3 linked regions of the Homo sapiens genome follow. The protein of the gene in region 3 purifies or fractionates together with the protein of the main gene of each other region. This does not show direct contact. Each region holds a gene or a part of one and is shown on either strand. Other genes may lie near its edges.

The links.
Region 1: the proteins of CTTNBP2 (region 3) and STRIP2 purify together in Homo sapiens (affinity purification with mass spectrometry; one large-scale study listed by BioGRID and IntAct). This does not show direct contact.
Region 2: the proteins of CTTNBP2 (region 3) and PDCD10 purify together in Homo sapiens (affinity purification with mass spectrometry; one large-scale study listed by BioGRID and IntAct). This does not show direct contact.

What each region holds. Positions count from the first base shown.
Region 1 is NC_000007.14:129,454,302-129,459,296, forward strand, and holds part of STRIP2 (striatin-interacting protein 2), read left to right. Parts: intron 1-119; coding exon 120-226; intron 227-942; coding exon 943-1,070; intron 1,071-2,137; coding exon 2,138-2,341; intron 2,342-2,398; exon of another isoform or gene 2,399-2,711; intron 2,712-3,521; exon of another isoform or gene 3,522-3,781; coding exon of another isoform or gene 3,782-3,913; coding exon 3,914-4,149; intron 4,150-4,410; coding exon 4,411-4,476; intron 4,477-4,995. UniProt on the Homo sapiens protein: Plays a role in the regulation of cell morphology and cytoskeletal organization. Required in the control of cell shape. Calmodulin-binding scaffolding protein which is the center of the striatin-interacting phosphatase and kinase (STRIPAK) complexes.
Region 2 is NC_000003.12:167,724,028-167,729,022, reverse strand, and holds part of PDCD10 (programmed cell death protein 10), read left to right. Parts: intron 1-3,549; exon of another isoform or gene 3,550-3,622; intron 3,623-4,995. UniProt on the Homo sapiens protein: Promotes cell proliferation. Modulates apoptotic pathways. Increases mitogen-activated protein kinase activity and STK26 activity. Important for cell migration, and for normal structure and assembly of the Golgi complex.
Region 3 is NC_000007.14:117,712,499-117,717,138, reverse strand, and holds part of CTTNBP2 (cortactin-binding protein 2), read left to right. Parts: exon of another isoform or gene 1-1,256; intron 1,257-4,640. UniProt on the Homo sapiens protein: Regulates the dendritic spine distribution of CTTN/cortactin in hippocampal neurons, and thus controls dendritic spinogenesis and dendritic spine maintenance.

The DNA.
Region 1 (4,995 bases), about 12 Mb from region 3:
GAAGTTGCCCTGTAGCTAATCTCACTGGGTTGGGCTTCCCACAGAGACCATCTCTGAGGTCTGTGACTATGGGCTGGGAATTGCCTTGGGAACCTCTTGTGACTCTTCTGTAACCCCAGGGTGCTGCTGAGTGTTATGTACCTAATGGTGGAAAATATTCGCCTGGAGCGAGAGACAGACCCCTGTGGGTGGAGAACAGCCCGGGAGACCTTCCGCACTGAATTAAGTAAGAAATGGCACTTGAGGAAGGTGTGGATGGGGTGCTAATGGGAGAGGGGAAGCAGAGCATCTGCCTAGGAGAGGCAGACAGTCGTTTTTTCTTTTGTTTTCTTTTTTAAAATTAATGTCCTTTCTTTTAGGACACAGATACTGCATGGCAGGCACAAGGGCTGGGCTTGATTGCCGCCCTGTATCTATGAGCTAAGACCAGCCATGTAACTTCTCTATGCCTTGGTTTCCTTGGTTATAAGTGGGGATAGCCATTCCTCTCCCACTCTATCACGAGTCCCACATGAAAAAATGAGTTGAATCACCTTGAAAACTGAGTTCTGTTCAAATGTAAGTTGGTGTTGTCATCTGACAGGGATAGGATATGAAGGACTATGGGATTTTAAAAATATATTTATTGATGTGGAAAAGTGAATGACATTGAGTCCTTTAGCCAGAAAGCAATGTCTTCATTATTGTTACTTCTAGTTTGGCATCCAACCCCAAAGCGTCACCCTAAGCTCTGGGGCCTATGCCATTTTAATTCCATGGCGTCCCTTCCTGCCCTTGAGGGGCTTCCTTCTGGGGGCTAAGCCTCCTTCTCAGGACCAAGTACTCTGGTATTCTTCAGGGGAGGTGAGTGCCTTCCTGTGTGTGTCCAGAATCAGGGTTACATGAAAAAGGTTTTAGCTGCCTCATCCTCACTTTCTCACTCCCCTCTCTCCTCACCCCTAGGCTTCTCCATGCATAATGAGGAGCCTTTTGCCCTTTTACTCTTCTCCATGGTTACCAAGTTCTGCAGTGGCCTGGCTCCTCACTTCCCCATAAAGAAGGTCCTGCTCCTGCTCTGGAAGGTGGTCATGGTGAGTAATTCTCCCCACTCCCACATTATCAGATCAGCAATGCCCTATGCCACCTCAGTTTCTTCTAGTCTCATTCCAGGAGGCTGGATCCAGGGAGCAGAACAGGCAGCCCTTAGCCAACTGCTAATATGGAGGGGCAACAAGGCTGTCCTAGAGACATCAGATGTTCTATGTTAGAATGGGTTTCATGTTTCTATTGGATGGATGGGAGATGCCACTCCATAAATTGGGGATGTCAGTGGTACCTTCTCTTATTAAAGCCAATGTTTGATGGAGAGAACACTGGTTGAAAGTTGGTAGATCTGGGCTTTGCTGATACTGAGAAACTTTGGGCAACTCTCTGTGCCTCAATTTCTCTAGCTGTAAAAGGTTGGGGTGAGTGCCTGCCCTCCCTCCAGATAAACAGAGGTTTTGTATTTTTTTTTTAATAAAAATAATTTTTTCTTACAGACAGGCCTCCCTGTGTTGCCTGGGCTGGTCTTGAACTCCTGGTCTCAAGCAATCCTTTCACCTTGGCTTCCCAAAATGTTGGGATTACAGGCATGAGCCATTGTGCCTGGCCAGGATTTGCTTTTTAAAAAATAATGAAGTTCTTATAAATATGTGGTTACATTTCTGTTACTAGTTATTCAACCTGATCCTTCATTTTTGGCTCCCATCTCACAAGGCAGGCCTAATAGGGGGAACTGCCTCTTGACTGCAGAGGAAATTGAGTGACTCTGGGGGTTTATAGCACCTGGATGGTGTTCCTTAAAAAAGTCGATAGTTTCTTTTTTTTCTTTTTTTTTTTTTTTGAGGAGGCCCGCAGGAATTCCTTTCCTAAATTCTGTGATATTTCCCATACTGGGGCAGTAAATAATGCCTTATCCTGACCCCTGAGCTCCTCAGTTGCCGTGGGGATGGTAATCATATTTGCCTCTTTATGTTTTACTACCTCCTTATTAAGGAAAAGGTCTGAAGGGACTGGAGGTTGTGGCCCTTTCTTTTCATCCATGTTTCCCTGACCTTGGCTCTCTCTTACTTCCCTTCCTTCCTCTCTCTCTGCCCCTTTCCTGTTTCTTCCTTAGTTTACCCTCGGTGGATTTGAGCATCTGCAGACTCTCAAAGTACAGAAGCGGGCAGAATTGGGCCTGCCTCCACTGGCTGAAGACAGTATCCAGGTGGTGAAGAGCATGCGTGCTGCCTCCCCGCCCTCTTACACTCTTGACCTGGGAGAGTCTCAGCTGGCACCCCCACCCTCCAAGCTGCGAGGCCGCCGTGGCTCTCGAAGGGTATGGACTGAAGCAGACAATGGTATTGGGACACCGACTGGCCAAAAATCAAGATTCTAAGTTACTCTGGGTGTGGTAGGAAAAAGCAGTAAATGACCCGGCTCATCCTGCCCAGGTTGGCCCTATGACCAACCTGAAATCTTAGGGTCTCTAGTTTGGCCTCTGTCCCCCAGCCCTGACAGCCCCCTGCGCTGTTGTGATGTGACACTGTGATATCATGTCATATATAGCCATGTCTTGCTACAGAATCATTGGCCTGGACCTCAGTGCCTGGAGTTCCTTACATTCTGAATAACAATTAAGGGTATAATCCTGGGGATAGGGACCCAGGATACCGGAACAGGTCTCCAAGCAAATCCATTTTTCTGGGGTAAGGCATTTTACTATTTTGAAGCACCAGGAAGTTTTACTGTCAGCCAGCCACACTCTTAACTGGCCCTGGAACCAAAGGCTTACATTTAAGAGATGACTGGGTAGGGGTCTATGTATATAACCATGTGACACTAAACGACAGGGATACAATCTGAAAAATGTGTCATTATGCAATTTTGTCACTGAGCAAACATCATAGAGTGTACTTACACAAACCCAGATGGTATAGCCTACTGCACACCTAGGCATATAGCCTATTGTTCCTAGACTACAAACCTGTACAGCAGGTTACTATACCGAACACCATATGCAATTGTAACCCAATGGTGTTTGTGTATCTCAACCTAGAAAAGGCCAATAAAAATACAGTATTATAATCTTATGGGTCCACAATTACATATGCAGTCCATTGTTGACTGAAGCATCGTTGTGCAGCACATGACTATAGTCTGCTGTCCTGAAAAGGTCAGAATGAAAAGTTATACTGAGATCTGACTATGTTCTTACAAACTCCCCTGCCTGACCCACTTCAGTTTATCAACAGGGCTAGATAGTAGTGCTCAGTAATCCAGTCTCCATTATCTGCAATAAAATTTTTTAACTTTATTTTTGTTTTATAAAGTAATGCTTACTCATTGTAGAAAATTTGGAACAAATATAAAAATGTGATGAAGGGAGAAAAGAAAAATCACCCACAATCTTAACAACCAGAGACAGTCACTGTTAACTTTTTGGCCTATTTCTGTCCAATCTTTTTTTCTTTGTCACAAGATTTAAAATTCCAAACTTGCTTCCCTCTGCCTAGCAGCAAGCTTCTGTCCTCCTCTTCCTCAGTCAGCCAGCTGGTGTATGCTCACAGAAGGCAAACTAATTGAATGTTCACCTAAGCAGAGCATAATTAGGAAGGAAAGTGCTGGCAAAAAAAGGCATCACTGCTTTCTGAAAGCTAAGTAATTGTGACTTTGGGATTATCTATGCTATGTTCCCTGGCTAATGGCAGGGTTACCTGAGAACTTCTTGTCCTGTTATTGGGCCGGGTGGGGACAGTAGGTTAAGGTGGGGAATTGGATGTTTTCGCAAGGGCTGTGTTCAGATTCCATGTTCCCTGAAATGTGGAGGCCTGTGGATATGGGGTGGCCTCAGACAAGGATGCCCAGAGTGAGATCTCTGCATGCCTACCCTCCCTTCTTTCCCCTCCAGCAACTCCTCACTAAGCAGGACAGCCTGGACATCTACAATGAAAGGGATCTCTTCAAGACTGAGGAGCCCGCCACAGAGGAGGAAGAGGAGTCTGCTGGTGATGGAGAACGAACCTTGGATGGAGAGCTAGACCTGCTAGAGCAGGACCCTCTGGTGCCACCTCCACCCTCACAGGCACCCCTCTCTGCTGAGCGGGTGGCTTTTCCCAAGGGCCTGCCCTGGGCCCCAAAGGTCAGGTAGGTTTGATAGCATCAGGGACCCCTATGCTTCGGGGTTTCAGTCTCCAAAGGCCCAAGATGGGGTAGTCTATGTATTCAAGGCTCGTTAAGTTGGTCTGGCAGTCAGAACTCCTGGGTTTGAAATTCCTTCTGTTGATTGCTGCCTTTTTCCACTGCTCCAGTCCTCTGATTGGAGGGATAGGAGCCCGGAAAGTTTTTCTCTCTCAAAGTTTGCTTTTCTTCCCTTCTCTGGGATTGGTCTTTCCACCATCCTCTCAGACAGAAGGACATTGAGCACTTCTTGGAGATGAGCAGGAACAAGTTCATCGGATTCACCCTGGGGCAGTAAGTGACTGAATGGCTGGAACTGGCTACAGAGTGGTTCCTAGGGGGCCAGAGGAGCAGGTAGCTTGGAATGAGGGATGGTGCCTGGTGGTCATAATGTAACCTAGAGCCCCTAGGCCATGGACAACTCCCAGTGACTACTTTGGGTTCTTTCTATGGATTTCTTTTTTCCTTGAGTTTCTTCCACTTTTCCTCAAAGAACTTTTGTGTTTTTAGCCAACTGTAGGACTTTGAGCAACAAGTCATTTCTCTTTCGGGCTTAATTTTTTCCTGAGGTTGTTGGGTTAGATGGTTTCTGTGGGCCCTTCCTGCTCTAATGGGCTAAAATTCTGTGAACAAGAGACATGGTCAGAACGGATCCAGTCTTCCCCCATTCCCCAGCCTCATGAATCCTTCCCACTGGCCTCTTGAAAATTGAGTCCTTATTAGTGGAGTTTCATAGTCAAGGTGTCATTGGGCTATATACCCTTTTAAGTAGGAACCTACCACTCCTACACCAAGTGAGTACCCAAAAGACTA
Region 2 (4,995 bases), on a different chromosome or scaffold from region 3:
TCACATACTGCAGTAGTTATTTTTAGTGAAGTTATTTTTTTGTTTGTTTTCTTCAAACAAATGTTCACCATGTCTGTTGAACTTGCATAGGGTAGGAGTATCATGTGAAGCAGGTACGCTCCCTGGAGTGTTAATGCCAAGTGGCAGTGTGACATGTCACTGTATTTCTTTACTGTCTCTCTTCCCTGCCAAGACTACATACCTTCAAGGGTATGTGCTGTTTGACTTTTCATCACCATATCTCCAACTAACACTGTTGCTGACTTAGACTGACTATGCAGAATACTGTGTTGGATACTAGGAAATAGAGAAATGGATACAACTTCTCTTTAGGGAGTTTATACTTCAGTAGATACAAGGGGAAAGGGTTGAAAGACCATTGTATGGACATTTAGTCTTTCTAATATACTAAGTACTTCCATGTGCATCAGTTCATTTTACAATTTTAGGTTAGAGCTGATAGAAAAATAAATGATTGTTTCTCTAACTGCCATCTGGTCCCTGGCACTGAAATGGGTCTCCCTGTCTTATTCAGTCATTCTCTCTTACTTCAAGATAGACTGGAATTCAACTGAGATTGAAGTTATGGAATGACAAAACCCTAAGATGTTACACACCGGCTGCCTCCTCAGACTTATATAAGGTTACTACAACAGAAGCCAGTTGGGAATGTTAAATGAGTCAGACCTGGCCTCTAGACAGCAACTGCACCCTATACGAGTTTAGATTGTTGCTAGGCTTTTTTTCATTTAATTCCAAAGCATTTGGAATCCTTTTTTTTTTTTTATTGAGAACTGCACATCTTTCTCTATGTCTTTATCCATATTAAAATCGGTATTTATGCAGTACTGTCAAAATTTGAGAGATTTCCAAGGTTCTACCTTATTTTTGGTATGCTCCCTTAAAAAATAAATCACACTTTTGCGAAGTGAAGGTTACAGGAGGAACAGTAGATGCAGTAAAAACAGATACTATCCTAGCCCTAATTTCTTCTTGTAAGAAATAGTATTTGTATTTGAGATCAATTGGGAGCTAAAGGTAAAGTTAAATGTCATCATCAAGATAGAACCTTGGCCTCATTAGCACCTAATGTTAAATAAGGCAGAGGCTATTTATTGTCTGGGGCTAATAGTTTCTGTCAACATTTGAGTGCCCTGTGGCAGTGTTTTTGGTGCAAAGAAATTGTGTAAAGTAATGAAAGTACCTGTTGCATGTTTTAGAGGATCTTAAGCCATTAGGAGTCATTAAGTTAAATTCTAGGTATCTAAGATTATAAGTGATACAAAGCAAGTAGCTCTGATCCAGGGTGGTACAGATTCTTTTAATTGTACCTTTAAGCAGAGAGGACCTAACACTCTGAGGAATTAAGTTTAGTTGAATTTCTAAGGGATTTTAAAGGAAAGCTTTAATTAACATCGTATTGGAGAAACTAAGACAAGGAATAATACTAATAAAAAGGAAAATAGACATGTACCTCAATTAAACACCAAACAACTATTCAACTAGGCATTATTCATGAACCATTAGGTTGAGAACTTTATGGGCAAAAGATGAACATATTCAAGGGGACAGATTTGTTTCCTGTCTTCCAACAAGTGTTTTCATTTAAATTTTACTCAGATCAGAATTTACCAAAAATTTAGACATAGGAAAAAAAAATGAGGATTGTCACAACTAAAGAGATGTATGTTTTTCCCCCTGAACAAGTTGCTTTGAAATATCGTAGGAGCCAATTGTTACTATTTTGTTACTGTTTCCATTTCCCATCAGCTAATTCTGAGGTAATGAGCTCTTTAATTTTGTTGTCAACTTTTGATTATCTTGTACAGATTATAAACCTTTTATGAATTATCTCAAGGGCTTTGATCACATCTTGATTTCAGTGTGCAACCCAGCCTGCTACCCAGCCTGCTTCTGGGCCATGGTTTCCTTTGTTAAGTTTATCTATGTACATTTAGAAAAGTAATTTTAACATTGGTTTGGCAAAAAGTTTTAAAATGCACCTGATGGCCAAATTCTTTTATGTAAGCCAAAACTAAGTGTATTTATGCATCCATTTTGGCAAATGGGAGATAAAAGGTTTTGAAAATATGCTATGTAGGTGGCCTTTATGACATTGTGATATCAGTGTTTGACTCTCATTGTGTATGTTATGCAGGGGCAGGACTAGGGTGAGGCAAGAGATATGCCTAGGGTACAAACTTTGAAGAAGCACTAACTCTCTCAGTCATGCAAATCAGAGCAAAATTTTGTGTTCTAGGCATCTGGTTTGCCTCACCCTAGTTGCAATCGATTCCATGTCAGGTTCCTAGAATTTTGGCTAAAATATTAATAACAATATGAATAGAATGGTTATTATGTGTTAGCCACTGTAGTAACTATTTTATATGCAGTTAGTACTCTTAATCTGGGGAAGTGAGTACTTCAGTATTTCTGTTTCTCACTAGTTTAGAAATAGAGATTTACAAAACTGAAATGATAGCATCCAGCTGAGCAAAAATTCAAACTGAGGTTTTTTTCCTTCCAAACTGAGCACTATCTCCTGCTGTATACTGTCTATCTATGTGTAGAAAAAGTTACTTCTTACCCATTTTATAAATTTCTGTATTAAGAAACAGTACTCTGGCCAGGCACAGTGGCTCACGCCTGTAATCCCAGCACTTTGGGAGGCTGAGGCGGGTGGATCACCTGAGGTCAGGAGTTTGAAACCAAACTGACCAACATGGTGAAACCCCCATCTCTACTAAAAATACAAAATAGCCAGGCGTGGTGGCAGGTGCCTATAATCCCAGTACTCGAGAGGCTGAGGAAGGGGAATCGCTTGAACCTGGGTGGAGGTACGCCACTGCACCCCAGCCTGGGTGACAGAGTGAAACTCTGTCTCAAAAAAAAAAAAAAAAAAAAAAAACAGTACTCTACAAAATATGTAAGTGCATACACTTGACATGGTGCAGTTAACTTTTAAGATGAGCTGGAAGTCTCAGCAGCACCAAGTTGAAGATCCACAAGCTTGTGCTGCTAAGTACCCTAGAGTTGTCAGACATATTAAAGAAGAAACCAAAGGATAGAGAGGTGAAATGACTTGTTCAGAGACAAAGATAGTTTATGAATGACAGGACCAGAATTTGAGCCCATGCTTTGAGACTTTAAATGCTTATGCTTTTTCCCTGTATCTTTCTGCACAAATTGTCCATTTAATATTTTTAAAGCATATATATATATATATATATATATATATATATATATATATATATATATAAACGATACAATGGTAAAGTGCTATATACACTTACCATTAACAAGAGATTGCTTCTAGATGTCCCTAAGTGTAAAATTCTGTAAGTACTAAACTGACAGTAGTGTATGTTCAGGGAGGTTAGGTTCCACTTAACTTTATTAAGAAAACTGGAAATGGAAGACATTGAATTATAGAAGATGTAATTTGCAAGTCAAGGAGAGAGATGTAGGTATATCCTTAAGACATCAAGCTCATTTTACTCTAAGTAGGATCACTGACTTACCCTATTCCTCTGCCTCCCTTTTTCCTAGCTTTCTCCTCTAAATCTTGGTCTCTTGTTTGGAAGTGACTAACAGCATTTTGGCATGAGAAAGCCCTAAAAAGGTACGTAAACTGTGTCAGCAAATGTTAACCCCACCCCGCTTTGTTAAATGGCCAGACTACCATCTATACAGTCTTTGTAAAAATCCATTTTCTCTAAGAGTTTGATGAGTGATTTTTTTTTTTTTTTTTTTTTTTTTCTTTTTTGAGACAGAGTCTCGCTCTGTTGCCCAGGCTGGAGTGCAGTGGCACGATCTCGACTCACTGCAACTTCCGCCTTCCAGGTCCAAGCAATTCCCTTGCCTCAGCCTCCTGAGTAGCTGGGACTACAGAAGCCCACCACCGCATCTGGCTAGTTTATGTATTTTTAGTAGAGATGGGGTTTCACCATATTAGCCAGGCTGGTCTTGAACTCCTGACCTCAAGTGATCCACCTGCCTTGGCCTCCCAAAGTGCTGGGATTACAGGCATGAGCCACCGTGCCCAGCTGATGAGTATGATTCTCTGTGTTATATTATTGAGAGAAAGCAAGGAATTGTCAGTTAATTGAAATCCTGGGTTAACCAACTCTTGGGGAGGACCTCCTTAATTAGAATTTGTAAATAATTTTTAATGATTTGATGCTTAAAGAAAAATTTGTCTTAAAGAAATTCCTATTAGATTACTTTGGAAAGTATAGCTGATAACAATAATGAAGTCTTATTATCACTGAATTTTGGTTCCAGTGATAATGTGGCTGGGTCCAGGCTTTGTTAATAGAATTAATTTGATTTTTGTGTTTGTTTTTATTTTGCTAGGCATGCTATTTGAAAAGTATATTAGCAAGACTGATTCAATTTATAAATTGCCCATCTCAACTCATGAATTTGGTCATTCAGCAAACATTAAGTGTCTGTTATGTGCCCGCTATGCTGACTGTAATGTCTCTATTGGGAAGAAGAAACACACTTATAAATGGGAACATAAACACAGGATTCTGCTCACTGCTAGAATGAACACACTTCTCTTAACTGAATGTTCATGCACATTTGTTGGAGATCCAGCATACATCAGTCAGTCAATCAATCTTTCCCTTTTTAGAGAGAGAAATTATAGGAATTATAAGAATTTAGGGCCAAGAGGGCTGAGTACTGGATTTTACTAGAGAGAAAAGCAAGACAAAAAGACCTGCCTGCCTACAAACGTTTTAAGTGTAGAATTACTTAAAAAGCTGTTTTTCTAACTGAGAAGTGCCTATACCAGTACCAAGAGCTTCTGTTGTTCCTCTCCTTTCATTTGATAGTAAATAGCTTTGGCTCTAGACTTATCTCAAGTCCCAGATGGAGTAAAGTAAGGCAGTTTCAGGAAATACTGATTCTGAGCCCTGAGATATACCCATGTGTGGCTCTTTAAATGAGCAGACTCGAGTTGGTTAGGGAGGGCAGAAACACCAAAGA
Region 3 (4,640 bases):
CACAGCATGGTATTCCTGGGTGAGCAGAAACAATGAGAAATGTCTCACTCATTAGTTGTGAGGATGCAGACTTCACAGAAGCACTTTGTAATATATGGTTTGTTCACCAAACCATGTTGATTGATTGTAAGCCACCTTGGGAGTAGATGAGAACGGCAAAGACCTGTGTGTGGGTGGGAAGGTGGGGCGCAGAGAGCAGGATTATAAAGTAAGCATGGTGAGACTATTAAGTTATTAAGCTTTATCTGATCACCTAGCGGCACTGGGCCCCACAGCCCCGCTCCCTCACTGCTTCATTAAGTTTTGATCCTGGCTATTACATGTGGAACTATGTGAGCTGCATGCATTGGGAGAGCAGGTATGGGAGTGGGAATTTACACGGCTGGGGGCTCTAATACAAAATATTTAACATGATGTCCTGTGAAGAAAAGCATGGCTTTCAAGCTCACTCTATCATAATGTCTGCCTTTTTTTGTTCAACTGGGAACAATTTAGAAGCCCAGCAAAATTTGGAGGATGACCTAAGAAGGTGACCTGGAGTCAGCACTGAGCCTTCTGGTTGGAAAACAGTCTAGGGCCCATCCCTTTGCTATCTTTAAAGCCTCAACTCACTCCCCCTGTATTTATTGGCTTGCTCTGAGCTGTGCTTGACTGGACGCCAGTCTCTAGGACCCAAGAATTTAGGATTCCTTGTGGAACATCGTCAGTGGAAGGGGCCAGGAGGATCTTAGCAAGAGGAACAGTGAACCACCTTCCCCATAAGCCCAAATCACTTTCTTGTGTAAAAATAGAGAATGGCTGCTGCTTAAATGTCTAATAAAGAAACAAACATTGTCATACCCCTATTTCTCTGTCACATGACCATATTGAGTTGCTACAATAAGGTACTGTCCACAAAAAAAAAGTAGTACTGAAAGTCAAAGTTCTGGGCAGCTTTGTTTAAGATATTTTTTAAAGCGAGTCCTTTTATACTATCTGGGCTCTTATACAAAGAAAAAAAAACTATGTTATTGTTTAAATGTGCAATTTGATGTGGGAATTAGGACCGCTGCCTCCTAGTCTTCTCTCCCTTTGCCCACTGAAGACACTTATTTGGAGGGACTCTTCCCCAAGAGCTAGATGATGTTTTTCTCAGAAAGTGCCAGCAGAGGGCAAAGTGGTACTTACTGTTGGCAGCCTTCTGAAACCTTGACTGGCTGATGCCTTTTCTCTTCTCCTACTCAGCTGGTATTTCTGGGTTAGATGCCCAGTTTCTTCTGTTATCAGGAAGTATCTCCATTTAGAGGTAAGAGTTTCCTGGGTTAGTTGAAATCACTTTCTCCTTCATGGCCAGAAGGCTGGCAATGCCTCCATTGAAGAGGGGCCCTGCAACCATCATTATCTGTTGGAAAACAAAAATGAGTAAGTTATCTTTATTATTTGCAACAATATAACTCCTCACTGCTCTAACAGTAAGGGAGAGTAATTGGGTTTACTAATCAAGTGGCATTTAGCAGGCCTTCTGAATTAAAAACAAATATACATATTTAAATCAACAGGAAGAACAAATGTTAATAAATGTTTTCCTTTTATGTAAATCCAAACTAATCCTCTGAAAGGACAAGTTCACATCTTTGGTTGCATGATGAAATCCACTTGAGGCTTCTTTTTTTTTTTTTTTTTTAACTTCAGGGCCTGGACTCTAGTCTGAGGGGAAGCCTGGACAATGGGTTTTTTAAAGGTCCCTGGTGATTCTTACATGCATCCAGGGTTGAGACCCACTGTTCTAAAACATAGCCCTGATCTGTCATCTTCATTTTCCACCCATTTCTTTCTTTCCAAATATATCTTTAGAGGGATTGAGATGCCTTCATGTAGCTTTTCACATGTTCCTTTTTTACATGTAATTTACTACTTCCCTCTGTACTCCTCCCCATAGAACCTTCTCTCGTCACAGTCCTGTGCCTCTTTAAAGACTCACCCCCAATGCCACCTTCCCTACATGTTGTTCTTTTCCTCCTGCCCCTAACTTTCCCATCTAGAGGAATTACAATATCTTCTTAGCTTCTAGTAGATGCTGTGTATTGAATGAATTGCTCTGATTTACCAATTCTTTAAGGCTAAATAAAACTTACTTTAGGTCAGTGCCTTTCTACACAAATTAGTTTTTGAGTTTAACATGCACAGCAATATGGATAGTAAACGTTATACATTTAATACAGATAATTCGGGGGTTTTAGCCCAGGAAGCATTAAACACCTGTAACTCTCCTGCTCCTAAACTCCGCTGCCCCCTAGGCTTGACTTCCAGGGTGTCAGGAGCACTTTTCAGGCAGGATGCTGTGCATTGGTCACCTGCTCTATTCTTGCACTCCTGGCCTTGAATTGCTGTGGCTCACGCTAAGCCCAAGTGATTCTCCATGTTCTCATCCTAACTCCTTCCATTCTAGCCTCACACTTCCAGGGACTGACCAAACTACATGTTTTTAGTTGTTCTGGGTACTTCTCAGTACTTTATTTCATGTGGATATTTCCTGCCTCAGACCATGAAGGTACACTCCCCTCACCATCATGTTGCAGGTACAGAAACAGACTAGAACAGTGTATGTCTCCTTTCCTTCCTCTGGGCCATGGCATTAATTAACTCTGTAGATTTGACAATAATGGCAAAATTAAACAACTCCCCTCACCACCAGATTCTGTATAGCAACTAACTGTTATCCTTATTATAATGCCATATTTCATGTTTTCTGAATACTACGTATGTGTTGCATTTGCTGGTGTTTTAAACCAAATTACAAGTTCTAATTGGCCTTAGTAGGCCCATGACCAAGTCCCATTTTGCGGACTTAACAGTAATTTCTTGTTAGGAAAAATGAGATTGGATCCTGGTACCTGCACTGTTTTTACAGTTGTGACTATCACCATCCAACTCATGACAAGCAATGTAACTTCTCATTTTCTTTCTGGTAACTTGACAGCATAAGCATCTTTACAAAACAAAAGCAGAACATACTAAGCAGATTCGCCCTTAACATACCATCAAGTACACATGGAGGTGACGAGGATGGACTAGGATGTGTTCCCTCACCAGATGTAGCTCAGCCTTTTTCCAGGCTTCCTCGGACGTAGTTAAAACCGAGCCCATCTGTTTTTTGTTTTATCAGGAAGCTCTTGCCTTTCTAAGCTAGCTTCTTGCAGTCTAGACTTCTCTTTCCTTTCCCTGTAAATGCAGGTGGCCTGGACCCCAGATTTGTCCCCTCTTTATTCTCCATTACATATTTGTTGTTTCAGTGTTTTTATATTTTCCCAAACCACTAGCCAAGTATATATTAGAGTTACATTGCTGTTCCACTTAAGATTAGCTGAGTCTGAAAATCTGACCCCAAGAGATTTCACTTTGGTGATTTAGGGGTAGTTTAATGAACATGTTGTGTTGGGCTTTAAAGAATTAGGACTTTAACAGGGAAGTAAAGGAAAAATAGGATTTAAAGGGGATTGGAGCCAAACTTTAAAAGAACTTTAGTGACATGCCAGTTAGTGAGGACTTATCCTTTACCTTCCTATTCACACAAACACAGCCATAATTCTCTGCCCATTTTGTGGGTAACATTGGATTAGGTTGGTGAGGAGAGAGAGAAAGGCAGCTGCTAAAGATAACTGAGGATTTCCTGCTAAATTCACTGGGAGAGCAGCATTAGCCAGTAATGAGCCAAGCGGAAAGGCTTTAGAAATTAGTATTGAAGAAATGCAATAAATACAGTTTTAGAAAGAATTTGAAGTGTGGCTAGACATATAGGTGAATTAGTGGGGTGGAAATGCAGGAGATAAATGAGGGCTAAAGAAAGAACTTTGGGAAATACTTAGAGCTTGAAATACTCTGAAGGGAAAGATTATCAATGTGTGACTTATAGAGGGCTAAGAAAAATGCTACCATTTAGGACAGCAGTCCCCAGCCATTTTGGCACTGGAGACTGGTTTCGTGGAAGACAATTTTTCCACGGACCTGGGTAGTTTCCGGATGAAACTGTTCCATCTCAGATCTTTAGGCATTAGATTCTCGCAAGGACTGGGCAACCTAGACCCCTCACTTGCACAATTCACAAGAGGGTTTGTACTACTATGAGAATCTAATGCTGCTGATCTGACAGGAGGCGGAGCTCAGGTGGTAATACTGGCTCGCCCCCGCTCACGTCCTGCTGTGCTGCCCAGTTATTAATAGGCCATGGACTGGTCCACAGCCTGTGGCTTGGGGACCCTTGATTTAATTGCTCAATGGAGAAAAAGGATAGTGAGGAGTTAAGCTAGGCGTTCTTTGGCCGCAAGATTTTTTAAAATCGTATGTCCATGCCACACCCCAGAACTATTAAATATGAATCTCTGGTAATAGGGCCCAGCCAATGACTATTAAAGCTCCCCCAGGTGATTCCAATGTCATATAAGACGATACCCAGGAGAATGCAACTGCCGCAACTGCCAGATGAAGCCAGATTTTTCCTGTTAAATTTTAGTTTTGTTTTAAATTCTTGTAATGGTTATATTGCTGTTGGGTGCATTATTACTTTTGAAGAGGAGAAGTTATCAAGGTCAACTCCTTCAGAGGCATTCAGAGTAGGTCACTTAGTAGGAGTCATGTCATGTTTGTTAGTTTGCAGAATTTAA